Homo sapiens: one gene and its partners. The protein of the gene in region 1 purifies or fractionates together with the protein of each later gene. This does not show direct contact. Each region holds a gene or a part of one and is shown in the gene's direction. Other genes may lie near its edges. The genes, in order: ALKBH3, ASCC3 and PPP4R3A.

Region 1 (10,521 bases):
ACTCTACCCTTTCAGGGGCTGTCTCCTGATTGGGGCCATAACTAAGTCTTCAGTAAGCCACTCCATCTTTCAATTAGCCAAACTGTTTCCAATGGGTAAGAAGTTAAGCCCATTGATGTACTTCCTTTACTGTGAAATGAGTTCCTTGATCAGGGAATACCATGAAGGGGAATAAGACATTTGGTGGGTTCACAGATGGTGGTGCTGGCCAAAGCAGTACATACAAGGAAGATAAATAAACCCATATCCAGAATATGAATATATTCCAGTGAAGATGAATCTCCACCCTCTCTATGATGGAAAAGGTCCAATGTAATCAAACTGCTACAAGTGGCTGGACGGTCGCCTGACAAATGGTGACATATGGAGGGCTCAGTATTGGTCTTGGCTATTTGTAGGTTAGGTATGCAGCAGTAGCATTAGCCAGGTCAGCTTTGAGAAAAGGAAGTCCAAATTGTTGAGCCCATGCATATCCTCCATCCCTGCCACCATGACTACTCTGTTCATGGGCCTATTGGCCCATGCATGACATTACAGGTATGAGCCACCACACCTAGCTCACACATGTCTTACTAAAGCATCTAAAACACTTTCTACCTTCTGTTCACCATATCCAATCAGCACAATGTCGTCATTATTGTTGTCTAGAGTGATGTTTTGTAGGATGTCAGGATGAGAGGTGGACCTATAGTATGACAGCAGAAGAACTGAGGTATCTCTGAGGCAAGACTATGAGAGTATACTGTTGGCCATGCCAAGTAAATGCAGAATGTTCCTTTTTTTTTTTTTGAGACAGGGTCTCACTCTGTCGCCCAGGCTGGAATGCAGTGGCATGATCTCGGCTCACTGCAACCTCTGCCTCCCTAGTTCAAGCAATTCTCCTGCCTCAGCCTCCCGAGTAGCTGGGACTACAGGTGTGCACCACCACACCTGGCTAATTTTTTGTATTTTTTTTTTTTTGAGATGGAATCTCGCTCTGTCACCCAGGCTGGAGTGCAGTGGCACAATCTTGGCTCACTGCAAGCTCTGCCTCCCGGGTTCACGCCATTCTCCTGCCTCAGCCTCCCAAGTAGCTGGGACTACAGGCATCCACCACCACGCCTGGCTAATTTTTTGTATTTTTAGTAGAGATGGGGTTTCACCGTGTTAGCCAGGCTGGTCTTGAACTCCTGACCTCAGGCGATGTGCCTGCCTTGGCCTCCCAAAGTGCTGGGATTACAGGCCTGAGCCACCGCACCCAGCCAAGGCAGAAAGTTTCTTGTAAATTAATATAGAGAAAAAGGCATTAGCCAGGTCAAGAGCTGCCTACCAAAGGCAAAAGGTTATGTTAATTGCCGCAGTAAAGATAGCACATGTGGGACAGCAGCTGCATTGGAGTCATGGAGTAACTACCTGATTAAATTTACAACAGCCGACAATCACTCTTCAAGATCCGTTTGACTTCTGCACAGGCCAACAGTAAATTAAATGAGAATGAGAATGTGATAGAATTATCATCTGATTCTTTCAAGTCTTTGATTGTGGCATTAATCTTTACAATTCCTCCAGGAATGTGGTATTGCTAGTATTTACTATCTTGGTATGGAGGGGAAGTTCCTGGAGTTTCCAGGTAGCCTTTTCTACCAACTGGCCTTCACTTTGTGGGTCAGAGAGTCAATTTGGGGATTCTGCTAGTTGCCAAATATAACTAATCCAACTATAGATGGTCCCTGACTTATGATGGTTCCATTGATTTTTTGACTTGACGATAGTGGAAGAGTGGTACACATTTAGTAGAAACTGTACTTCAGTACAGTATTCAATAAATTACATGATATATCAACACTTTATTATAAAACAGGCTTTGCATTAGATTATTTTGCCCAGCTTAGGCTAATGTGAGTGTTCTGAGTATGTTTAGGGCAGGCTAAGCTAAACTGTGATGTTCCATAAGTTGGGTGTAGCAAATGCATTTTGACCTATGATATTTTCAACTTACAATGGGTTTATCAGGATAGAACCCCATCATAAGTCAAGGGAGCATCCATATACATTCAGGAACTGGGGAAGTAGCCACTGGATGGATCTGTGGATGACTGGGTCCATTGTGAGTCAAACTTGAACTAAGATTCCATCTATCACTTGAACATCATTAAGCCCTCACTTTCATTCGTGGGCCATAGAGGTGTTCTAGGTTCCCAGGAATTAGTTAAGAGCCATTGCCCAGTAAACCCTAAAATACCTGGGTACTTACTTTTCCCCAGTGTGTAACCATTTGAGTAAATGGCTGCATTCACTTGGATGAAGACTTGGGCCGGGCGCGGTGGCTCATGCCTGTAATCTCAGCACTTTGGGAGGCCGAGGTGGGTGGATCACAAGGTCAGATCGAGACCATCCTGGCTAACATGGTGAAATCCCATCTCTACTAAAAATACAAAAAATTAGCCGAGCGTGGTGGCAGGCAGCTACTCGGGAGGCTGAGGCAGGAGAATGGCATGAATCCAGGAGGCGGAGCTGGTAGTGAGCCGAGACCACGCCACTGCTCTCAGCTTGGGTGATAGAGCGAGACTCTGTCTCAAAAAAAAGACTTGGAGGAAAATTTACAGTATATACTTGTGACAATGGTGCAGGGTCCTTCCTCCAAGAGATGTGGCTTCCCTGTCAATCAAGAGGTTTGGGGTCGTGATATGACTTGTCTGGAAACTAGGTGAGAGATATGTCTATCCAGTGTGGCCAGGTAAGGTTTTTGGCTACTAGACATAGACTTTTTTTCTGTTAGATAGATCAAACAATTCTCTAGTAGGCTGCCCATCTGTTTCATTCCTAGGGACACCATGGCCACTACCAAAGATCCTTATAGACCAACATATTCTGATTACTGGTATGTCCTGGCTTCTGTATTGGATCAATGTCCTTACCTTTAATAATTAAGTGCTGCCACTTGGCCTCATCATCTCCAGTAAAACCAGGGGACCCAACTCAATGGTGGCATCTTCCATGATCACACCTGGCCTGCAAAGGAGAGCAACCACAGAGCTTTCCAAGGATGCAAGTGCTCCCTTGTCTAAAGTATTTCTCAATGCTTTAGAAAAAGGAGCATCTTCTGGATCTTGTTGTAGGATATAGTTTTTGTGTTTGTGTCTATTGCACGTGGGTCAGGGTCACATTTGATAAATTCAGTCCAACATTTCTACCCTTCTCAGTCTTTGGGTTCCCGCCTCTACATCGTGCCTTGGCATCTCAGTAGGATTAACCATAGACTACTGTTGAGTTAAATCTTCAATAAATCCACCAAATAAGCTGTTAGAGTCATTTCCAGTTGCATGAGTCAACACAATGTCTGTAAATGCACTCTAGTAAATGCCTCCATATAATTGGCCTGATATAGTACTATATACTGCCCTCCTTAGTTTAAAACAGTTAGAATCCACTTCCACACATTCCATACATTAGCAAAGTACGTGTAATTAGTATAGTTCTTTCAGCGTGCAAGCTGTTTTATCCTAGATCATAGTGTGTAGCAGCCTACCTGGAGCATTAATGAGGTTTGAACCTAGTTAGGGTCTAGTGGCAATGAGGCAGAAGAAGGGGAAGTAAATTCTGCTGGGTCTTGTAGAGAATGAGCTTCCCTTTTGAAGTCATCTGCCCCAGCTGAGGGCTTAGCAGTGTCTTCAAGCAAAGAATGACTAGTCTCCTCAGACTTAGGAGGACAAGCTACTTCCACTGCCAAGGAAGGCTCAGGGTGCCATGGGTGTTCAAGACTGTCAGTTATCTGGGTCTAAGCAGAGTGCTTATTTCAAATTTTGGGATTCCATTCCTTCCCAATTGATGCCTTAACTTTCAGAAGAGAAACTAACCTGGTAATTCAGCCCACAGGGAGTAGTCAAACACTGTGGGCCACTGTGCACTAAAGAGCCAGCTGAGAGGAGCACACTGGAACCAGAAAAAAGAGCCCCTTCCTCCTCTAAAGTTCCTCCAGTACCCTCCACTGATGAAGCTCACTGTCCATTGAACCAAAAGGCAAGGGAGAAACCTTCCAATATTGCAAACAGGGTAGTGAAGGGTGGGTTTGGAATGGAGACTCAATAGGTTGATAATTGGCAACACACTTCGCCTTCATTCCTTCTCCCATGGTCTCTACCACCACCTCCTGATAAAAACTCAAACACTTCAAATAGAAATAAGAAAGTCAAGACCCTAATGAGGATGCCAAGACCATTAAGAACATCTAATACTATATACTCGCATCGTCTAGGGTAACCAACCATCTCAGTTTGCCCAGGACTGTCCTGGCTTTAGCACTTAAAGTCCTGTGTCTTGGGAAACTCCTCAGGCCCATACAAACCAGAACAATTTGTCATCCTACATATGTCCTAGAGGTTTTCAAAATTTTTGTGCACCAGAATCACTTGGGTGCTTGTTAAAAACGCAGGTGATTCTGTTAAACAAAAAAAAAGCAGTAATTTCAGATGCAAGTAAATCATGGATTGATCTTTGAGAAATACACTACGTAGAGGCTGAAGAGGTGTCAATCACTACTTTTAGGAACTCCTCAATCCAGACTTCTTTGTTCCTGTTCCAAAACTATAATCATTGAAAAGAAAGAAATAACATATTTTAGAAGATACAGCCAAAGTTCCTGAGCCAGAAGCAGACATTGACAAATTAGTTGATGGGGGAAAAAAACTGTAGTGTGGCCTTAGCATTTTCTCTCCTTTCAGGTCTAGGATAAATCATTTTTTTCCTTCAGTGTCACAAAGTATAACAAATAATAATGAGTGCTGTGAAAATGGATTTGATAGTAGCAACAATATAGGTACACATTGATGAGGTGTACCTATAATGAGCTTCCTGAAGGTAAACACTCATATCAGGCTTATTTTAAAGATTTCCACAGTGACTATACTTTGGCGGATCTTAGAGAATGACTTGCATAAAACAGTCAATTCAGTGCTACTTTTGCTATTTTCATACTGTAAAGTACATGGTTTAACATGACCATTTTAAAGATGTTTCTCATGAGCTCAAATGGGGTGAGCTCTTTTTCATTTTTTGAGTTTTTGTTGTGTTCCAGGCATTGTGCTATATTCTTTAAATGCATTATCTCACTTAATCCTCCCAAAAAGAGCGATACCCATTTTAAAAAGAGGCAGAGTACTTGCCCTAGATTATACAACTAGTAAGTGGTGGTGTCTGGGCCAAAATGTAGGTCTGTTCACTCAAGCAAATTTGCTTAGCACTGGAGAGAGCCAAGGTGAATTAAGGCGTGGTCCTACGCCCTGCTGTAAATGCTGTGTTCGGAGGTGTGCACAGGCTGCAATAGGAACACAAAGGAGGCTCATTTCAGGCTCTCCGTGGTTTTTAGGATAAAATGCAAATCCTTTTGCCTAACACATTATAACCAGGTCCCCCAAACTCCTCTCCCTTTATCTAGTCCCACAGGGACCCGGTCACTCTTTCTGCCACAAAGATGCCGATGCTTGGACATCTCCAGTTTCGAGGAACTCACGTAGGAGACACGCCTTCACTTCCACCTTTGCCAAACCCCGACCCCTTCACACCGCTCCCCTGCACTCTCAATCCCTGTCCGCTGCAACACATATCCCCTCATCAGCACCTTCGGTGATTAGGCCCTCCAGGCGCGGGGGATGTGGGACTACCCGGACTGAGGACTGCGCACCGGAAGTAGTGGCGGCGCTGCGTAACGTCGAGAGGAAGTGCCTGATGCCGCGGCCTGTGATTGGGAGTTGCTGGAGTCGGTGCTTCACTCTTAAGGTTCCGATCACAGACTGCGGAGTGGGTCAGGGGCTGCGAGGGCTGCCCCAAGTCCTACCGGGTTTGCACGGGCGCGCCCGGCTCCGCCCGCAAGTGCGCCTTCCTGACTTACTGCTGGGTGCGCGGGGCTGGGGGTGCGAGTACCACCCCTGAAGTCTCTTCCTGGGCGACCTCCGGGGCCTCATTCTAGGCCTCCTTAAAGAGAAGGATCTAAATTAGGAAAAGGAAGTGCCCTTATCCACGACCAAGCTCTTCCACCTGCGGAGCTCGCTTAGTCTGCACCTCAACCGTGCGGAAAGTGACTGCCCTGTTTACTGAGGAAAAACTGGGGCTCAGAAAGGTGAAGTCATTTGCCATGGGCCATGCAGCTGGGAAGTGACAGATCTGGATTCAAAGCGAGTTCTGGCTGGCGCCAGAGTCCTTGTATTTTACAGCACTGGTTCTCAAGCTTTATGTGCATTAAGAATTCCTGGGTTGAGGGTGGCGTTAGTTAACAAATTCTGGGACTCTACAAATTGAGTAGATCTGGGATGGGGCTCTGGAATCTATTTTCAACAATTGTTCCCTGGCAAATAACATATGGCTCCCCAGTGAATGGAGCAAGAAGGTGAGCAAGTCGTATCCTCTGCGGGGACTGTAGGTAATTGTGTTACGCTTTTAGGGCCTCAATTGAGAGAACATGTCAAACGGGAGCTCCTGGGATTGGAGAATTGGTATTTGATTGTCATTAACTCTTCTGGGCAGATGGCAGCCTCTGCGTCTCTCCACCTATTAAATGAAATGAATTACATGCTTATCATCTGGGGGAACTTGTTAAACACACAGATTCCTGGGCCTGGCTCAGCTCTACTGAATCAGAAGAGGTGGGAGATGGGACCTGGGAATCTATAGTCTAAGCAAGCTATTAATATAAAACGAGCTTTTACCTTTGAGAACTTGAGGTGTGAAGCTTTCTTAGGTAGAAGCATAAAGAAATAGATTACAGATGTGGAACATGTGGCTTGAATTTCCTTGTTGTTTTGGTAGCTGTACGTGCTTCTGCATTTGCTGTAGGCTAAGCTTTTACTGGTACAACTGTCAAATTAGTATTATTAGCCATTATGAGGTGGATTTATCCGTTAGCTGGAGACAGGAGTTTAATATAAGTTGAATGTTAATCTGTCTGTTGTTGATTTCCTGAGTGGCTTTGGGTGCATCATTGAACTTTACCGTCCACATACATACCTGCATTGTGTCAAATCTTACACTGCTTGTTATAAAGACAAATACCTGTATCCATCCTAAATCAGATTTTCTGAAGGTGGGCCATAGGTATTTTGAACAAACTTCCAGGGAAGTTTGATGCAGCCAGTGATAATGGAATATATGCTTGGAAACAGTCTTAGCCGATTTCTCAATGTCCATGTAGGTGAAAATGGGAATAGTACAGTTTCCTTATATTCTACTCTTGGGGACTATTAAGAGGAATGTGGTTTATAATAGGTCCTAATTTTAGAATTTCTTAAAATGCACTTTCTTGTGAAAGAAACAAAAGTACTATGGTAAGATTACAAAAGGTGAATGCTAAAGCCAGCAGCCCCAAATGACTAGGCTTCTTGAATGAAATGTTGTGATGACATAAACTGATTTTACATGGAAGCTCTATTGCCATTGAGAGTCTTCTGCCTGAAATTAATTATGCCTTAGGAGTAATTGTTCACAATCCTAACTAAAAGCACTGTTTTGTTTTGTTTTAATAAACAGATACCATGGAGTAGTTTGAAACAGGAACAAAATCTTCTGAAAGCTCGGAGCAGAAGCCTTTTTGGTCAACATGGAGGAAAAAAGACGGCGAGCCCGAGTTCAGGGAGCCTGGGCTGCCCCTGTTAAAAGCCAGGCCATTGCTCAGCCAGGCAAGAATCTGTAGGGATTTTGTGTGTGTGTGGATATGGACAACTCTCATTCTCTTTTATTTATATCCTTTTGGTTTATAATGGACTTCCATTTCAATTGACGTCAAGGAATTGTTTAAAATGTGGCTGATATTTTGTCCGATTTTGTTGATGGTGAGCTAAGGGTGGGTCTTTAATGTTCCTCATATTTAGTCCACACCCTCAAACCTTTCAGTATCTTCTGTTGACTTTACCAGTTAGTTTCTACATGTCATAGAGATCATCTCCAAGTGGGCTTTATTGGCCCTTGCTCAGTAGAAGGTGCTGAGAACAGACTTTCCCCTGGTTTGAGGCTGTCCCCTCTCTTGCTTCAGCTACCACTGCTAAGAGCCATCTCCACCAGAAGCCTGGCCAGACCTGGAAGAACAAAGAGCATCATCTCTCTGACAGAGAGTTTGTGTTCAAAGAACCTCAGCAGGTAAATTCATGGTTTTTTCTTCAATAGTGATAAAAATTTGCTTAGAAAAGTGATATTCACACAGTAGACACTCAAATAAATAATGACTGAATAAATTCACTAATAGCAGAGCAGAAGAACTATAATAATAATGAAATGAGAAATATTTCAGTTCCTTTCTATGTCTGGGGATTCTTCGTAGTCTGCTCCCAGTTTATGGTCACATGTTATTCCCGTATTTTTGGCAAGGAGGTTACACCATAATGAGAGCTTGCTTGCATTGGTTATTTGAGCTCCAGCAGTCCTAAAACTGTGCTGTCTTCAGTGCTATTGCACTTCACCATCTTTGGAATTGGATTAAAATTTCAGTTTTTACAATAAAATGCCTGATTTTTAGCCCTTTTTTCCCATGAGGAAAAATGTAGGAAACAGTGAAGATTTACTTTTTAATAATGTGGAAAAGTTAAAAAGTTGGGTTTCTTGCCATAGTAACAACCCTATAAATAATTATTAAAACTCCTTATTTTATAGCATATTTTCTATTTTAAAAAATCTTGTCAAGATTTTTCCAGAGCTGCTGGCTGCTAGGAAAATTTATTCTATTAATAATTGTATCTTCTTTTACTGTCTACTAGCAAATGTGAAGTAGTTTTAAGAAGAGTGGAGACAAGGGTCTCTAGTGGGTTAGTGAGAAGTTGGAATAGAAAAGAGATAGTTTTTAACTTTATTTTGACCAGAAATGGGAAGATATGGTAAGTCAGTATCCTTGAGGATTAAGAACATCCCAGAAGTAAGATCCGCCTATTTCCTTGCAGGTAGTACGTAGAGCTCCTGAGCCACGAGTGATTGAGTAAGTAATTTGCTGTCTTCCTGTAATTGTTGCCCACAGTGAAATGAAGAGCCTGGAATCTTTCCTCACTGTTTTTTCTATCTGGAAGAGAATGGCCCAATAAGTGTCTTAACTGTAGTCTGGGATATTCCCATCTCAAATGTCTTTAAACTTGATCTTTTGAGAAGACTTTCTGAATTTGCTGATAGTATTGAAAATGCAACAAGATATCCATATGTTAAACTTTGACTTGTGTAGATTTCCTGGCCCTATTTCACCGATATCTGTAGACAGTAAGCTAAACCTCTCAGGCAAAGACAGAGAGGGATTTTTCCTGAGTCATTGAAGCATGGTTCTTTGAGAAGCCATTAATTGCCTCTTTTTTTTTTTTTTTTTTTTACTAGCAATGCTATGAAAGCTGCTAGTGCTGTAGATGAGCTTACAGTCCATTTATTAAAACCATGTAATTATTCCAGAACAATTTAAATGATAGTAAACATTCTTCTTATATTGATCTGTGTCTAAAATGTTCTTGTCCAAAGTTGGTGAGAGATGCTTTGACTCCTCTTTTTATGCTTGTCAGTTTTCATCTGATGTAGATAAATTGTCAGTAGAAACTATTCTTTTATCTTAGCAAATTAGCATCAGATATATGTTCTTGCCCATGATCAATCTGTTTGTTATGCTGTTTGACTGCTTGCAGATTGGCTTGTATATCTTAGAAAAAGTCGCAGGCTAATAGTCTTTGGTTGTTTATTATTTTTTATTTTTTTGGAACAGGCTGTCACTCTGTCACTCAGGCTGGAGTGCAGTGGCATAATCAAAACTCACTGTAGCCTCCATCTTCTGGGCTCAAGTGATCCTCCCACCTCAGCCTCCCGAGTAGCTGGGACCACAGGCACACACCACCATGCCTTGCTCCTTTTTTAAAAAATTTTTTGTAGAGATGGGATCTCCCTATGTTGCCTGGGCTGGTTTCGAATTCCTGGGCTGAAATGATCCTCCCACCTCAGCCTCCCAAAGTGCTGATATTACAGGGATGAGCTACCATGCCAGGCCTTTGGTTGTTTTAAAAAAACAAGTGTGTTAGTGCCTTCATTGGTGAAGGAGAATAAACAAAACCATGAAACATGTTGTAAGCTACAGATGTGACATTCGGCCCCCCAGAAACAGGCAATTGTCGGAGAAAAATGACAGAACTCATTCCTACTTGGTCCTAGAATCTGTTAATTCTCATTATCTAAAGTTAACTATGCTAGGTTTTAAAAAAATAGCCGGAAATGTCTTCCATATTTAAAGTGAGCCATTTCTGAATGTGGGCCAAAAATACACCATATTGAAACATTTTGTTCTCTGTATACTCAGGGAAACATTATAGACGATGCATGTAGTAAATATGTGTGACAGCTATGCCTGCTATGCCTACATTTTGGCTGAAAGGCACTCATACATCTACTTAAAAGCCTAGCTCAGAGATCATGAACCACTAACTCCCATGACAGAAGGTGATGTGAAAACTGCCCCTTCGTGTTCTCTATAACGTGTCTCTCTCTGAGAAGGATCTGACACAATTGTCTTGATAGATATACCTATCCAGTCTGTGTCACTTT
Region 2 (10,617 bases), on another chromosome or scaffold:
ACTTGTAGACTGAAAAACATCTACAACTACAATTTTGAAAATATTCTGTCATGTCTTCAGGTATGCAGTGATGCTGATAGCATCAGTCCCTATTCCTTTGTTGATTATAAGTCTTTTATGTTTAGGAACTTTGGGGATTTCTTCTTCTTCATAATTTTTATTTGTGGCATTACATGATAATATCTCCAGGCATGAGTTTTTTAATCTATTTTTCAATACCCTGAGTCTACTCAAATCTGAATAGTTATTTTCTTCTCTGCTCTAAAAAAAAAAAACTTATAATTTTCTCACTCTCCCTCCCCTTTTTTTTAAAAATCTTTCTCATCTACTGGTTGAGCCTATTGGATTGGCTCTCCACGACATTCTTATGTTTTCTTTCTTATTTTCTCTCTGCTATGTATACTATATTCTTATAAGATTTCTTCGATTTTATCTCCAGTACTTCTCTTGAGTTTTTAAGTTAACAAATTTTTAATGTCTGGTAGCTCTTTTTGTTCTATCATTGCTCCTTTTTCAAAGTATCTTATTCATATCTTGTAGACATAATATGTTCTGAATTCCATATTAATTCGGGTGCTTCTTTAAAATCTTTTATTTATGCTTCCTTGCCTTCTTTAGAGTTAGTTTTTCTATGTTTTTCTTTGTATTTTTCTCTCATGATGCTGATTTTCCTTATTTGCCTGTTAATTCTTCATGTTTGTTCATATATATATATATATATATATATATATATATGTATATAAAATTGGTAGTTGATGCAGTTTTCTTTTTGTAGGTAAGAAGTCTGCCAGTTCTCTCTCTCTCCTATGTAGGAATTGTGAATACGTGGCTGGGTTAGGTAGGACAGGGCCAGGAATGCCAAATATGAAGTTTCACTTTACATGAGTAGGCAATTAGCTTATTCTCAGGATGCTGGCCCTGAATGCTTGAATAAGAATGTTTTTCCTTTGTGTCATCAACCTAAAAGTCTTCACTTTTCTGTACTAGTTATTCAATTAATTTGGAGAAGATTTGGGGGGTCAGTTTTGGTCTTTTTGTCTGGTGGCAGATATTAATATCTTTTGCTTGCTCTCAGTCTATATGTCTGAGAAAGCGAAATGTGTATGGTGATAGATTCAATTGTGCCATATTTTATCCCCATTTTCAGCCCTTATTCTCACTTCTGCCCTATCCTGTGTAGCTTCTCCACTATATTTTTTAGGCTATGGTTTTGGTCAAATCACTACTATTTGCTTTGTATCCCAACACATTTTTGAAATTTCATTTGCTTCTCTTGACATCATCTACTTTTTTCTACTCATGTAAGTGCATGCATACAGGCACACATCATCTTTACTCCTTCACTTATTCTTCATTTTTTCTGTTTCTTCATTTTTATTTCTATGGTGTGTAGGAAAGGATAGTAGGCAAATGATATGCCGAGTTCACCATATTGAACAGTAATTCAAGAAAAACCCTTTATATATTGTAAGCACATATTTTGAAACCTGGGTAAAACATATTGCAGGATTCTCCGAAGCTGATTGTCCCTTGGCCCATATGCCCACCTATACAACATTCTTATTCAAAGGGAAATGAAATTACTTTGGGAGAAGCTCACATTTTTTGAGTTGTTTGGTACTTTTAAAAAATCATCTTACTAGTTAAGAAAGAGGAAAGAAATGGTGGTTGAGGAGGCAAACAACACTGTCTGCCATGGTAGTAATCTAACTTTTTTCTTTTCTAATATCATTTATTTAAAAGAGTAGAAAAACATTTTAGAATTGAGTCTTTTATTAATCAGCATTCCTCAAAGGTTAAGCATCAACTTCAGAGCAGGAACTGCACTGGAGTGCAGTAAAGATGGAATTTTAAGACTCGGTGTTGCAGGATAAGGCAGGGGTGAAAAAGGGCAGGGAAGAAGTGACTGACAATAGATAAAATAAGAAAGGCCTAGAAGCTGAGGCTATGGCACACTGGTGAGCTAGGCAGACCTAGTGCACACACATACTGAAGGAGGTATCCAGAGACTGATGGGCTGGAAATGGTTCTGAAACTTGGCAACCCATCCTTACAAACCATGAAGTGGCAAATCTGATAATGAAAGGCTAACATACTAAGGATAATGAAACATAGAAATGAAAAAAGTCAAAAGCATGAATGATTTTGTTGAGCTGTAAGAAATAGGTTGGAAACACTTCCACCTTGAAATTTTCTGTTCTTGAGACAATTTTGAGATAATTTAAGGCACTCTTTGCAAAATAATCATGTTACACACATACAGAAGACACACACAAACATATATAATTTTACCTAAATGTGTTCATATTATGTATAGATTGTGTTGCAAGCTCTTTCATACAACTGTACATTTTGGACATATTACCATATCAAGCAATACAGATTCACATTATACTTTTTTAATGCCTCTATATTTAGAGATGTATTACAATTTATTTAAATAAATCCAATATTGAGCCTTTTTTTGGTATGATACTTTTTTTTTTTAAGACAGTGTTTCACTGTTACCCAGGCTAGAGTGCAAGGGTGCGATAATGGCTCACTGTAGCCTTGACCTCCCAGCTTAAGTGATCCTCCTGCCTTAGCCTCCTGAGCAGCTGGGACTATAGGTGCATGCCACCACACCCAGCTAATTTTCATTTTTTTTTTTTTTTTTTTTTTTTTTAGAGAAAGGGTTTTGTCATGTTGCACAGGCTGGTCTCAAACTCCTGGGCTCAAGCAATTCACCTGCTTCAGCCTCCCAAAGTACTGGGATTACAGCTGTGAGCCACCACACCCAGCCATATGATATATTTTTAAATGCAATGTGGAGTTTTGTTTTGTTTTTCAATTAGAGATGGGGTCTTGCTCTGTTGCCCAGACTGGAGCTGAATGGCATGATCATAGCTCACTGTAGCCTCAAACTCCTGGCCTCAAGAGAGCCTCCAAATTCAGTCTCCTTGGTAACTAGGACTACAGGTATGTACCATCAAGTCTGACTATTTTTTTTCTATTTTTTGTAGAGATGGGGGTCTTCCTATGTTGCCCAGGCTGCTTTTGAACTTCTGGCTTTAAGTGATCCTCCTGCCTCAGCTTCCCAAAGTACTGGGATTACAGGGGTGAGCCACTGCGCCTAGCCCACTGCAATGAGTTTTAATTGGTTTCCCAGCCATGCACTAATTTCAACCCACCCTACCCAATATTGCCAAAGTAATCTCCCAATCCCATTTTGTGACTGCCAAACACTGACTGCCTATTATACTCAATTCTTTAAATTTAAAATTGAGTCTCCTTATAGACTAGTTTGTTTACATTTTAACTTTGTCACTACCTTCTATTAACAATGTTCCATTACAGATAAATAGGTTTTCATTATCTAGAATGCAGTTATAGTCTTGTTTCTTGTCTTTGCTCATGGCATACTTTCTGGACGGTCTTTCTCTTTGTCATCAGGGCCATTTTCATTAGGTTGTCTTTCCACTAACATTTGGGGAAGCTGGGCTTGATGGCAGGTACCTGTAGTCCTAGCTACTTGAGAGGATGAAGCAGAAGAATCATTGAGCCCAGGAGTTCACGGCTGTTGTGCACAATGATCATGCTTGTGAATACCCAGTGCACTTCTGCTTGCGCAATACAGCAAGACCCCATCTCTTGAAAAAAAAAATGGGGAAACCCTGGGGACTATAAAGAGGACAAAGATAGCTCTTAGAGTTCAATGAAGTAAGACCATCCCTCAGTGTCCACAGGGGATTGGTTCCAGGACACTCCCACATACCAAAACCCCAGGATGCTCAAGTCCTTACACACAATGGTATAGTATTTGCATACAAACTATGCACATTGTCCCATATACCTTAAACCATCTCTAGGTTACTTATAATACCTAATACAATGGGAAATGCTATGTAAACAGTTGTTACATCCATATTGTTAAGGAAATAATGACAAGAAAAAAAGAGTCTGTGCGTGTTCAATGCAGACATTACCATTCTTTTTTTTTTTTTTTTTCAATTGTTTTTGTTCCAAAGTTGGTTGACACATATACAGAAGCCATGGATACAGAGGGCTAACTGAATTTCCTTCCAGGCCAGGACTATGTAATACAAATATGATGCAAGCCACCTATGTAATTAAAAATTTTCTAGAAGTCACATAAAAAGTAAAAATAAAGTTGAAATTAATTTTAACATATTTTATTTGATCCATTATATATTATTTCAACATGTAATCGACATAAGAATTACAATATTTTACATTTGTTTTCTAAGTCTTTGAAATCTGGTGTACATTTTGGACTCATTGCATGTCTCAGTTTGGACAAGCCACATTTCAAATGTCAAGAGACGTATTTAACTGGTGGCTACCCCAATGGATAGGGCAGTTCTAGGTAGTCTATTTTCAGTTCCTCTCTTCTCCCTTAAGCCTCTGGAACTGTGATGGGAATAATCTGTCATGTGAATTCCTAGCACTTATCAGCACCTCTCATTATCACTTGGCCTCCTTGCATTATTTATTTTTGTGATGCATTTGTCTTGTCTCATGAACTAACTTGTAAACTCTATGAAGTCCAGGACCAAAGACACATGTAATCTCAAGACTGGAAATATCTTTAACAAAACCATCAACTAATTATTCTGTTGATGTGTGGCTCCCCTGTACCAAGTCCCTATTAAGTGAGCTTCAGAATCTCCTTGAAGCAAAATTCTGTGGTTGAGGTATTCACACATGCTAAGGTAGGCAATTCTTTGGGTCGTGCTACAAGGGCATCTTCTTTTCAGGATCTTAAATCTGTTCCCTGAAGTTTGCATCACATGAAACAAATCAACTTCACATGATAGGTCATTTCATATTTGGAGAGAGTCCAGTAGTTTTCTCTCTTCTAGGTGAGTCCTGGAAGGTTTAATCAATCCTTCTTCACTTGCCCTGTTTTTGAGTTCTCGTCATCATTTTGCTCTTCCCTGATATAATGCCAGCTTGATTAAAGTCTTCAAATGCTGAACACAGCACTTCAGAGGTGGTCTGACCAGTAAAGACAATAACTGGATCACTATTGGCTGCCTCTACAAAACAGTTCTACCAGGCATCGGGGCACATTACCTTGAGGAAGCGGGAATGGCAGAAGAGAGCCACAACAAACATATTAACTCATACTATCTTTGCATTGTTGGCTTTTAGTCTAGAACTCTTTGCAGATAAACCACACAATTCTTTAGGTTAGTTTTTCTTCGTATCTTCCTATCTTTTCAATCGAGTTAGGGAATCTTTGGGCTTTCTGTTTTTGGAGGAGGTCTTCTGACCGAAGAGCCGACTTGCAGAGATCACTTTGAGGGAACTAAGCTGAGAATCCAGAAAGCTTATGGAAAACAGGCCTTGACACCAGAGAACCATGTATACTCTCTAGCAGCCAGAGGGCTTTGGCTGAAAACGACGATAGCAACTACCTGTTTCTTCATTCAAATTGCTCTCCTTTCCTTTACCTTTAATAGGAATTATTTCCTCCACATATTTACCTTACAGAGAAGGGCGGGGAGAAGACGCGGCAGACTGAAGTAAATGCAGGGAAAAAACTCACAGGTAGAGAGGTAGAGACGGCAGGCCTGGCCCGTTGCGGGCAGCCAGGGTAAAGTGGAGCGTCCCGCTCCCGCCCTGGGGCGCATCCTCGCCGCCGCCGGGACCTTCCGCCTCTGCTCCTCCGAACCCAGCGGACTAGAGGCTGGAGGCGGGAGGCGGAGCGGCGCGCGCACGCGGGCGGGGCAGAGGGCCCGGAGTCGACGAGTCGACGTGCCGACGTTGGCGCTGCAGCGGGGCGGTGACGTGTAGGCCGGCGCCAGCTCCACTCTGTCCCTCCTCGCCGGGTCTGTGCGTCTTTGCGTCTGTCTGTCTGACTGATGGTCCTCACACGCGGTTCCCTGTGACTGGGCGCGACCCCGGCAAGCGCGGCTTGGAGGGCGGACGGGGCGCGGCGATACAGCTGCCCGCTCGCATCTTTGGCCCTGCGCTCAGCTCCTCACCCGGCGTGGGAAGTTAAAGTAAAACCGAAAGGGAAGAAGGCGCGGTGGCAGGAGCTGACAGAGTGATGGGAAACGCGTGAGCCAGGCCGAGAGGTGAGGAGGTGGAGGTGGAGGTGGGAGGACGAGAAGGGTCGCCGCGGCCAGGGGAGCTGGCTGGAGGCGGGGACGGCGAGGCGGGCTACGCGACCCGCCAGAGATTCTCTTCCTGCCTCCGGGGCAAGTCCCGACCTGTCATCCTTTTCAGTGGCATGAGGTCGAGTCCGGGGTCTCGCAACAATACCGCCCATTCCTAGAGTTTGTAGGTGGGGTTGGGGATAGAAAACTTAACCTAAGCTACATATTGTCCAAGTGTTAAGCCACAACGTGACCAGATGAGGTTTTTCTGTCCCATGCATGGGTAATTTGTTTTCTTTTTTTCTGTTACAAAGCCTTGATAACTTCGTTTTCTTCACGTAGATTTGGGGAAAGAAATCTTCCTCATATTTTTCCCCCAACACACTGGAAAGTAAATAGGTAGCTGACCGTGATGGATTGTGGGTGAATTTCGCAATCAAGGAGCCTATAATGTCATTTTGAAATAAATAAATGTGTATGTGGGTGCTAGGGAGGTTTTGTGAGTACTGGGCAGTCATTTCAAATAGGTTTCTTATAAATTAACTTACTCATGGAATGCAGTGTGCTAATGGTATTTGCTATTCTTTGGTTTAAAAGAAGCATAATTCTAGGGGCTGGTAAAAGTTTGATGTGTTGTCACTTGTGCATTCAAACTCATGGTTACATTTTCTTTCTTTCCCTAGGTTAGGTGAGATTGACAGCCATTTTCTCCATCACCAGATTTTATGTTTCATAGATTGAAATCCTTTTTCTGATTCTCAAAGTTCTCAAATGTTGAGAATTAAGCTTTTGGTTTTACTATGGATTGTGCTCCAGTTTATGTTGTCTCTTTTTTTTAATGATGGTTATAATAGTCTTGCATGAGAAAAATGATCCTTAAAGATGCTCTTAAGCTTAGGCTAAATAATCCTATTTATATGAGAAATTAATTTTTCATGGTTCAGCTTTCTTGATCCCTGCTTAACAGTTTTTTGTCATTCATTCATTCAAGTCTTCCTATGTGTCAAACGCTGGGCTAGGCCTAGGAGAGCAAGAGAGAGACAGTCTCTGTGCTCATGAACTTTCTATAATCCAGCAGCCTCCTTTTAAGACAGAATCTTGACTAGGGTTCTTTCTCATGCCATGGATCTGTAGTTAACCAAAACAAAGCTTTTAAAAGAAAAAGTTATTGTCAATGTATATATGTAATTGGCATTGAAAGGGGAACAGATGATCTTGCTTTAACAGCATGATTTGATATTGCCTTTGATCAAAAAGTAGTATATGTACCAGTGGTTTGCCATTTCAGAAGAGTAAGTTTTTCTTTTTCAAAGCTTGTTTAAATATAAAGTTCACAGTTCTACCTCAGTTTCTACCTCAAAAAAAATAAATAAATAAAAAGCTTTTTCTTTTGAGGTAGAAATCAGTTTCTTTCCAGTCTTCACTTTGGTCTGATTGATCTCCTGTGTATCTCTGGAACCCCTAGGCTCAAGCAGTCCTCCTGCATCGGCCTCCCAAAGTGCTGGGATTACGGGCCCCATTTTGCCTTTTTGTATGCTAATGAATTGACTAAGAATTTTGTCTTAGCTAGCTGGCTGCTCCTAGTAGCTTCAGGATGGGGGCTGGTTACCAGAAAGGTCAAGGAATTATTAGAAGGTTGGGACTTTCATCCCCACCCCCTAACTGCTTAGGGAGGTGAGAGAGGGGCTGAAGATTAAGTTGATCACCAGTGGCCAAAGGGTTTAATCAATTATGCCTATGTAGTGAAGCCTCCATAAAAACTCAAAATGACAGGGTTCATAAAGCTTCTGAAAGCTGAACATGTGGAGATTCCTTGAGGTGGTGTGCCCAGGAAGTACTTGGAAGTTCTGCATGGAAATTCCCTTCCCTTATAAATTACCCTATCCTATGTATCTGTTCATCTGTATCCTTTGTAATATCCTTTATAATAAATTGGTAAACGTGTTTCCCTGAGTTCTGTGAACCACTCTAGCAAATTAACCGAACCCAAGGAGGGGGGTCATGTAATCCCCAATTTATAGCTGGTCAGTCAGAAGTACAGATAAAAAAGCCTGGAGCTTGTAATTGGCATCAGAAGTGGTGGGCAGTCTTGTGGGATTGGGCCTTCAATCTGTGGGATATGACAGTATCTCTAGATAGTGTCAGAAATGAATTGGAGAACACTCATCTGATGTCTGCTGCAGAAGTGATTGTTTGCTTGGTGCATGGGGAGAAACTCATACACATTTTGTCACAGACATCTTCTGTGTTGATGGTTGTCGTGTGAGAGCAGAGGAAAAACGGTTTGAGTTTTTTCCACTCTCACAAGAGGGCAGGCGTAAATTCCTTCAGTCTGCCTCCCAGAGGCTCATGGATTAGGGTGGAATGAGAATTTTGTCTTTCAGACATAATCTGTGCTAGGCCCTTTTCCACTGGACTTTCGTGGGAAGAGTTATAATACATACTGCCTAATATGTGCTGGGTCTGTTCCACGTTTTCTTGTGCTCGTTTCATCTTTGTGGGATATTCTGGAATTTTCTTTCTGACTATGCTTGTCCTTATCTGGTGTTAAAATATTTTTTTTTATTTGTTTTCCCAAGGACATTTAAAGGAAAAGCCTTCCTTACCCTGTGCTAAAAGTAAAATTAACACAACTTTGGGGGGGAATATTCTGAATATAAAGACTAATCTGCTTTATAGTTATGAGCCTGTCCAGGATTTTTTTCCCCCACCTTTGAATGGGAAACCTAGTTAGAGGATAAGTTAGAGAATAAGAGCCCCATAGAAATTTGGTTGTTTTTAACCATTATATATTTTGTATTGTGTGAAAAGTGTTTATGTGTTTTATTATTTTTGTCATGCTTTCTCTGTTCTGCATGCTTCAGATGTGTTTCCTAACTTGATTGAGAACTATTCAGGAGCAATTGCTTCTTGCTTAAGAATGAGTTAGCATCTAAAGTGAACTTGTTAGGTGGAAACTGTGAATAGCTAAGATTACCTTTGAGAATCCCTTAAAAGGACATCAAGTTGGCATAACATGCTGTCTCTCAGCATGTCCTACACAGCCATGTTTTTCATCCTGACTTGGAATGTATCACAGTTTCTTTAGATGAACTCCCAGTGAAAAAGTTGCTCTGTGTTTGGTCACCACCTTGTATGTTTTTTAAAAAAAGAGAAAAAGTGTTAAAAACTAGAATCATGCAATGCAGCAAGATGCTCACATTTTGAGATGCATGTGGTGATTGAAACAGACTAAAAGAGCAAGATTCTTGTTGCCCATCCCCCATTCACTCTGGAGCAGATATTCAATACCTGAAATGGTAAGCAGAATCTCTAGTAATTATTGTTTTTGTCTGTCTCTGCCTTCCTTTTTTTGGCCTACAGTGTTTGGTAGATTCAAGAAAGTTAAATGTGCCTAGACTCTGCTGTATGAACCAATTGATGGTAATAAGGTTTAATACAAGTAAGAAATTAAATTATCTTTAGGATTTATCATGAAAAAATCACCCCCTTTTGAAATCGCATAATGGAGGATTATAAATATGTGTCGACGATGGTTATTTTCTGAGTTCTGATCTTGCTAATGTTAACAATATCACAACTCAATTTTTAAAAAAGGCACAATAAAATATAAATATTCTTATTCACTGTTTAATATTTATTCACTGTTCATTTTTCAAGGTGTGGTTTGTGGGTACAAGATTCTATTTTAAGTACTGAAATCTTAAATTCTAATTTTACTCCATTTACAACCTACTCCTTCATGTCAGTGTTTTTATCCCTTAATCTGCAGTATATCACTTTGACTATTTTTGTCCCTTTAATAATTCCCTAGTATCCATAATTGCCAGTAACTAAGTGCTGACTTTAAACTTATTAGGAAATATAGTTTGGCTGTTTTGGAGATCTTTTCATATTTTTATAACGAAAAAATACAGTAACTATCTTTTCCTAAAGTTGCTATCAAGCAGTCAGACCATCTTTAGAGTTTAGAAACACAGGTTTGGTTTAAGAAGAATAAACATTACAATTTTAAATGTAGTACTTCAGAATAGTGTGTACTGGAATTCTAGCTCACTGATTATTGGTTAATATCATCTTGCAAAAGGAAATATGCTACCATCAGTTTAGTTTTCTCCTTATTTGGAATGTAAAAAAGGACAGTTACATTTTTAAGACTTTCTTTTTACCTGTACGTATGTTTAATTAACAATTTAAAGATTTGTTCAGATAGCCACAGCCAGTACTTCTGACGAACAGAAGTAGGCTTTTAGGGTTTCAATCCTTTAGAAATTATATTTGTTCTGGGGCATTAAATATTTATTATTAACAGAATTTTTCATTTATATATTTGTCATTTAGTGGACCATATTAAATGTGGAGTAAAAATTAGTAAGGTAAAAATTGATATGTAGGCCAGTTTTTCTTAATCCTTATTCACTGTGATCTTACCAGAAATTTTAACTATGAATGTTATGATTCATCTTTAAGACCTCCTAGTTGAACATCTTTTCCTTTCATCTAGGCCTAAAGT
Region 3 (7,000 bases), on another chromosome or scaffold:
AGGTGCTAGGAGTTTGCTGCTTCTTGAACCATAGCACTTTGCTAAGTTTAAAAAAAAAAACAAAAAAACCTATGTATAGGTAAATGCTCACGTACTACAAATGTAGCCAATAATTTCAAGGGCTTCATGGACCTCAGAGGCCCCTGGTGAAAAACACCTGCTGACAATAGAGGGAAGAGAGAAGGAGTTTTATTAACCCTATCGTCCTAACATGCCCTAGCTATTTTATGCTTAGATTTCCTCTTTGGACATTTTAATGACAGCATAAAATGTAAGTCAGTATGCTCGGATAGCGTTGGTATAATTGGTATAATGTTTTGTTTTTATCTTTTGCAATGCATGAAAAGAATATATTTCATATATTGGTTTAAGTTGTCCTTAAGGAAACATTATTTTTGTTTTATAGATTGGGGGAAGTGAAGTGTAAAAAGTCATTGTTTTGAAAAAGAAAGACATTGATAATTGCCAGTATTAGTGTTGCAAAAAGTAAAAATGAGCACAGTTTTATTTCCTTTTGTTTGTTCATTTTCGTTTGTGATAGTGTATGTTAATCATTCAGACTCCTTTTATGTCTCCAAAGGACACTCTGATTGTGTGGTCTGAAGCAGAAAATTATGACTTGGCCCTTAGCTTTCAAGAAAAAGCTGGATGTGATGAAATTTGGGAGAAAATATGTCAGGTAATTTTTTAAATAAAAAAATCAACATGCTTTCTTTAAGTGTTTAGTTTTTTGCCATGCTTTCAACTAATGCCCAAGAGTTTAAATAAATTTCAAATTGATCTTTTAAATTCACTGCTGTCTTTGAACTTGATTTAAAGGAAGGTGTAATTTATTGACACTAAACTCTCTAGCTCATACCTTTGCTGAACTCCAGTGTTTTATATCCACCTGCCTTTTTGAAACTTTCTCTTTTCATGTTCACTAGCATCTCAAATTTAGTACTCCAAAACCAAACATAATCTTCTCACATATATCTATCCCATCTCCTTCTAAGTGCCATGCAGTTGCTGAAATCAGAAACTTGTGGATCTTGTTTATCCTTCCATCATCGCTTTTATCCATTCAGTCCCTCGATAATAAATCTAGATCCATTGGCTTATCTTCATTTTTACTTTTGTAGTTTTCCAAGCCACCATCATTTCTTGCCTGGTTTATTGGTTTTGTCTTGACTGATCTTCCTAAATCAACATTTTAGCTAGAGCAATTAGGTGATCTTTTTAAAAATGCAAGTCTGATTACATCACTCTTTGTTCATAACTTCTTGTGGCTTTTGAAAGAAAACCCACCCTTGTACTTGTCTTGAGCAGTATGGCTGTTGACTGACTATTCAGCCTTACCGTGCCTCTAGGCTCGAATGTTCTTAATTTATTCTGGAGTTTCCCTAGTGACATAATCACAATCTTTTGTGAATTTGCATTTGTATGTGCTCTAGTAGCTAATGCTGTTGGCTCTTGTTATACACTTCTTAGGCCATTTCTTTCTAGAGAAGGTTTCTCCATCTCCATGTTTACTTTATCTAGAGAATAATCTTCACCAGATTCCTTAATTCCTTTGAATGTGGCCCTCAAACCAGCAGCACAAGCATGACCTGGGAACTGATAGAAATGCAAATTCTGAGACTAGCACCCCTCCCGCCGACCCCAGACCTACTGGATCAAAAACTGCAAGTAGGGTCCAATAATTGTTTTTTAAAATCCTTTCTTAGGAATTCTGTTTTCACAAGCCCTATAGGCCAGACTTTTCTCTGTAAAAAACAAGATAGTAAATATTTAAGGCTTTGCAGGCCATATAGTCTCTGTCACAGCTAGGTCACCTCTGCTGTTCTAGTTCGGAAGTAGTCATAGACAGCACATAAATGAATGGAGGGGCTGTCTTCTAGTAAAACTTTTATTTACAAAAACAGGTGGCAGACCAAATTTGGCTATGGTTTGTCGCCCCCTGCTTTTGGTGATTCTGATGCACCCTAAAGTTTGACAGCTATAGCATTCATAGAAGATATAGTGTCCTTAGCACAGTTTTTCCTTGACTTAATGGAATTTATTTCAAGAATATATTCTACTTCGCTGTGCTTTTCATAAATTAACCTGTCTGTTAAGCTGTCCCTTTCCTTCTCTGAAACATGAAAGGACTAACATTTATATCTGAATACCATCCATCTTTTTAGTTTTTCTTTGCTTTCCATCCAACAATTATATTTATAGCATATGTCTCTAGATTTTGTCTTGTAGTGTTATCCCAAAGAGAGAGAGGTGACATTAATGAGTTCAGGCTATGTTAATAGCATCTGTTATTCAGACAAATCTTGTTCTCCTCTCTCATCTTTCTGAATCAAACACTTCCACTCTGGATACAGTCTTCCTTTATGCCAATGTGTAACTCAAACCTGAACTCACTTTGTCATTGTCATGCCTGGCTCTCCTTTAATATTGTCTGATCTTTACCTTTGTTTGGTCTTTAATATCATAAAGTTTTTCATCATCTTAATAATTTTATCACTAGCTGCTTTAATATTCTTTTCTGATACTCCCTTTCAACTTTTATATAGTTTATGTTCAAGGTGTCATTTCTCAGTCACTCTTTTTATGGGTTCTGTCTGAACTTCTCAATCATTTTCTAGATCCAAGAAAGTCATTACATTTTGCTCTCTGAGATATTAAATGTTTTTCTATTTCTTGAACCATGTTCACCAATTTGCTCAACTCAAAAAGATGGCATTCTTAATATAATAAGGGCACTCCTCTCTTTTCATTTGGTTTGCTAATCAAAATCTAACATTTTTCTGTGGATAAAGTCATAGTTTGGGTATCAGGAACTTAAAACTATAATGAGAGCTTACATAATTAACAAATTCAGAGCCAGTGTGAGACCATGCAGGTACAAGCCATGAATGTGACTTGCCTCCTTTCAGTGCTGCTGTCCACTTGGTTGAGGTCAAGACCATATCACCTTGCAGCACATTTCAAGAAAAGTATTCCAGGTCGTCATCTTTTCTAGTATCTATCAGTGCATCTGTTCATTACGCTAAGCAATTTAAGTTTCTTGGCTTTTCCATATAAGGTCTAATTTTTTTCATTGCTTTACCATTCTACTTGGCCTTCTACTTGCTTTAGTGTTCACTGTCCCAAATTCTAGGGCCAAGATAACAAAATTTGTTTCATTTCAAAGTTTATCCTTGACCTTTTGTTACCAAAAAAAATGCCTTACTTTAAAATGTAGTCAATATAAGTTACCTTTTTATAATAAGAGCCCCTCCAGTGGCATAAAATTAGGTTTTATGACAGATTTTCAGGCTCCTAGAGGGATCATGAAGGCTACAGGTTAGGGTGTGTAGAAAGGAAAATATTTTCGTGGTTTGGTTACTTAACCTTCAGCAGACCTTTTTTGGGAATAACTCTACTACATATAGGTTGTATTTACTTTATATGTGGCTTCATTTTTATGTAGGTACACTTGTATTCTGCCTAGTGTTTTTTAAATCCTGTGTTTGGGCTGTCAGTATTTATAGAAGATCAGTGACTCACTTTGGTCCAAAGCCAGTTTGTTCATGCTCTTTGGCCCTTGGTTTCTACAATCAATTGATGTTAAATATTTTCCTTTTTGCTTATAATTATATATATTTTCTGTGATCATAACATTATGATATTTGGTGTTTATTTGGTCTTCACCTCAGAGTTAAATATTGAAGAGTTTGGTGGTGGCAGTGTCCTTTAGCACAGTCCTAGGACTGTTTCTGAGACTTGCCTTGGTCTGCTGGAAAAGAGGGCCAGGGATATGAGATGTTAGTGGCTGTTTTAGCATCAGGCTTCTATGTTGTGGGTCTGCAGAGGGCTGTTTCGTAACAGTCTCACTTAGTTTAGCCTGTCCTAGAAAGTTGTTCTTGCCAGCAGACCTCATACTTTATAGGGAAGCTCATTCTGTTTTTGAACTTTGACTAACTTCCTTAAAATTGAAAGTATACATATTTGGAGAAATGTAATGTAGAAAAGTAGGCAGTTTTGTCTTGAAAATGACCATTATAGGTTTCTTACAACATTTCTAGTATTCATCTTAGAGTAGCATTTAGGTTTGCTGGTCACCTGTTATCTATTTTGTCAGCAATTAAATTTTTTTTCATAGGTTCAAGGAAAGGACCCTTCCGTGGACATCACTCAGGACCTTGTGGATGAATCTGAAGAGGAGCGTTTTGATGATATGTCATCGCCAGGCTTAGAATTGCCATCTTGTGAATTAAGTCGCCTTGAAGAAATTGCAGAACTTGTGGCATCATCTTTACCTTCACCTCTTCGTCGTGAAAAACTTGCACTGGCACTAGAAAATGAGGGTTATATTAAAAAGCTCCTGGAGCTTTTTCATGTGTGTGAAGATTTGGAAAATATTGAAGGACTGCACCACTTGTATGAAATTATCAAAGGCATCTTTCTCTTGAATCGAACTGCTCTTTTTGAAGTTATGTTCTCTGAAGAATGTATAATGGACGTCATTGGATGTTTAGAATATGATCCTGCTTTATCACAACCACGAAAACACAGGGAATTTCTAACAAAAACAGCCAAGTTTAAAGAAGTGATTCCCATATCAGATCCTGAGCTGAAACAAAAAATTCATCAGACATACAGAGTTCAGTATATACAAGATATGGTTCTACCAACTCCTTCGGTCTTTGAAGAAAACATGTTATCAACACTTCACTCTTTTATCTTTTTCAATAAGGTAGAGATTGTTGGCATGTTGCAGGTGAGTTAGATCATTCCTTTTTTCATATTTCAAGAGATGCAGCGAAAACAATTTGCTCCTTTTAAATACATACATTGAGTTTTAATTTTGTTAATGTATAAAGTTAAGTATTGTGAGTTATTTTAAGAGATTATAATATACAATAATAATACGAGACCAGAAGGTTACTCTATCTGGGGTAGGAGAGGTAAGTGTGACAAATGTAGTTTGAAGAAATGGTATGAGGGGATGATTTTTTGGATACAGGGTCTTGCTCTGTCACCCAGGCTGTAGGGCAATAATGCAGTCTCAGCGACTGCAACCTCCACCTTCGCTTCCCTGGCTGAAACAATCCTCCCACTGCAGCCTCCTGAGTAGCTGGGACCACAGGTGTGCACCACCACCCCCAGCCAATTTTTGTATTTTTTGTAGAGATGGAGTTTGTCATACTGCCCAGGCTGGCCTCAAACCTCTGAGCTCAAGCAATCTGCCTGCCCTGGCCTCCCAAAGTGCTGGGATTACAGGTGTGAGCCACTGGGCCCAGCCTGATTTTTTTTTTTTTAAGTTGAGGTCTTGCTCTGTTGCCCAGGCTGGAGTGCAGTGGCACAGCCATAGCTTATTGCAACCTTGAACTCCTGGGCTTGAGCCGTCCTCCCACCTCAGCCTTCCAATTAGCTAAGACTACAGATGCATGCTACCATAGCCACCTTTTAAAAATTTTTTTGTAAAGAATGGATCTCACTTTGTTGCCCAGGCTGGTCTCAAACTCCTGGCTTCAAGCAATTCTCCCACCTTAGCCTTGCAAAGTGTTGGGATTACAGTTGTGAGCCACCATACTCAACTATAGGAGGATAATATTAATGAAATGGTTGAATGCTGAACTTTGGGGTTATTACTCTATGAATTTTGCATAGAATAGAACAGATTGGAAGAGGAAAGAGTGAAGCACAAAGCCAAGAGAAATGTCACCAAACACAGAATATAAATTCTAATGAGAATTGTGGGCCAGGCGCTATGGCCTGTCTCTACCAAAAAAATAAAATTTAAAACGAATTTGTAAAATTCCCAGATAATGATACGGTAAAAGTCCAGTTTCAGGGTCTAGGGAATGTAGCAGAGGAGGCAAATTATAACTGCATGTATCCCTACCAAAAGCCACGTTTTGCTAAGGGGTGTGCCTGTGGGTGAGTTAAACCCATGTGAATTTGAGTTTCAGCTCCGTCTGTCACTTAATAACAGTAGCTATGTGAGTTGGGCAGCCTTAACTTCTTAAAGCTTCGGTTTCCCCATCTGAAGGATGGTGACATTAATGCCTACCCTGTAAAGTTGTCTGAAAATTAACTGAGGTCAGGCATGTAAAGAAAGTGTTTAATATGATGTAAGATTCATGGGAATTTTTTAAGTGTCTATTGATAATTGCTTATTAAAATGTAGATTTTTTTTTCTTATAGTATGCCCAATCTCTCTGATCTGGTGTTTTAGGGTATTTGCATCACAGTCCCCTAGGGTGCAGTATCATGAATTCTGCACAAAACCTGAGTCAAAGTCTCTGAGAGCTAGACAATAATTTGCGTTTGTAACACCCCCAAAATTAGAAAAGCTCTTACTGTGTCATCCCAGTGTGTGAATTGGTCTATTCTAACTGAAATAGAAGTTTACATAGGCTGGGCCTAGTGGCTTATACCTGTAATCCCACCACTTTGGGAAGCCAAGGCAGGAGGATCGATTGAACCCAGAAGTTAAAGACTAGCCTGGGGCTGGATGCGGTAGCTCACGCCTACAATCCCAGCACTTTGGGAGGCCAAGGCGGGTGGATCACCTGAGGTCAAGAGTTCAAGACCAGCCTGGCCAACATGGCGAAACCCCGTCTCTACTAAAAATACAACAATTAGCTAAACGTGATGGTGGACGCCTGTAATCCCAGACTCGGGAGGCTGAGACGAGAGAATCATTTGAATCTGGGAGGCGGAGGTTGCAGTGAGCTGAGATCACACCATTGCACTCTAGCCTGGGCAACAGGAGTGAAATTCTGTCTCAAAAAAGATTTTTTTTTTTTTTTAAATTAGCCAGGTATGGTGATGCATGCCTATAATCCCAGCCATGTGGGAGGCTGAGTTGGGAGAATCGCTTGAGCCCAGGAGTTTGAGTCTGCAGTGAGCAATGATCATGCCACCGCACTCAAGCCTGAGCAACAGAGTGAGACCCTATCTCAACAACAAAAAAATAAGTTTGTGTAGTACAAAGAAAGAATTGTTATTTGCACCCATACACACACACACACACACA

The links.
Region 2: the proteins of ALKBH3 (region 1) and ASCC3 purify together in Homo sapiens (affinity purification with mass spectrometry; 4 studies listed by BioGRID and IntAct, with this or other methods). This does not show direct contact.
Region 3: the proteins of ALKBH3 (region 1) and PPP4R3A purify together in Homo sapiens (affinity purification with mass spectrometry; 3 studies listed by BioGRID and IntAct, with this or other methods). This does not show direct contact.

What each region holds. Positions count from the first base shown.
Region 1 is NC_000011.10:43,875,086-43,885,606, forward strand, and holds the start of ALKBH3 (alpha-ketoglutarate-dependent dioxygenase alkB homolog 3), read left to right. Parts: upstream 1-5,745; 5' UTR 5,746-6,094; intron 6,095-7,497; 5' UTR 7,498-7,567; coding exon 7,568-7,646; intron 7,647-7,999; coding exon 8,000-8,103; intron 8,104-8,897; coding exon 8,898-8,932; intron 8,933-10,521. UniProt on the Homo sapiens protein: Dioxygenase that mediates demethylation of DNA and RNA containing 1-methyladenosine (m1A). Repairs alkylated DNA containing 1-methyladenosine (m1A) and 3-methylcytosine (m3C) by oxidative demethylation. Has a strong preference for single-stranded DNA.
Region 2 is NC_000006.12:100,876,527-100,887,143, reverse strand, and holds the start of ASCC3 (activating signal cointegrator 1 complex subunit 3), read left to right. Parts: upstream 1-5,814; 5' UTR 5,815-6,083; intron 6,084-10,617. UniProt on the Homo sapiens protein: ATPase involved both in DNA repair and rescue of stalled ribosomes. 3'-5' DNA helicase involved in repair of alkylated DNA: promotes DNA unwinding to generate single-stranded substrate needed for ALKBH3, enabling ALKBH3 to process alkylated N3-methylcytosine (3mC) within double-stranded regions.
Region 3 is NC_000014.9:91,479,311-91,486,310, reverse strand, and holds part of PPP4R3A (serine/threonine-protein phosphatase 4 regulatory subunit 3A), read left to right. Parts: intron 1-580; coding exon 581-679; intron 680-4,117; coding exon 4,118-4,735; intron 4,736-7,000. UniProt on the Homo sapiens protein: Regulatory subunit of serine/threonine-protein phosphatase 4. May regulate the activity of PPP4C at centrosomal microtubule organizing centers.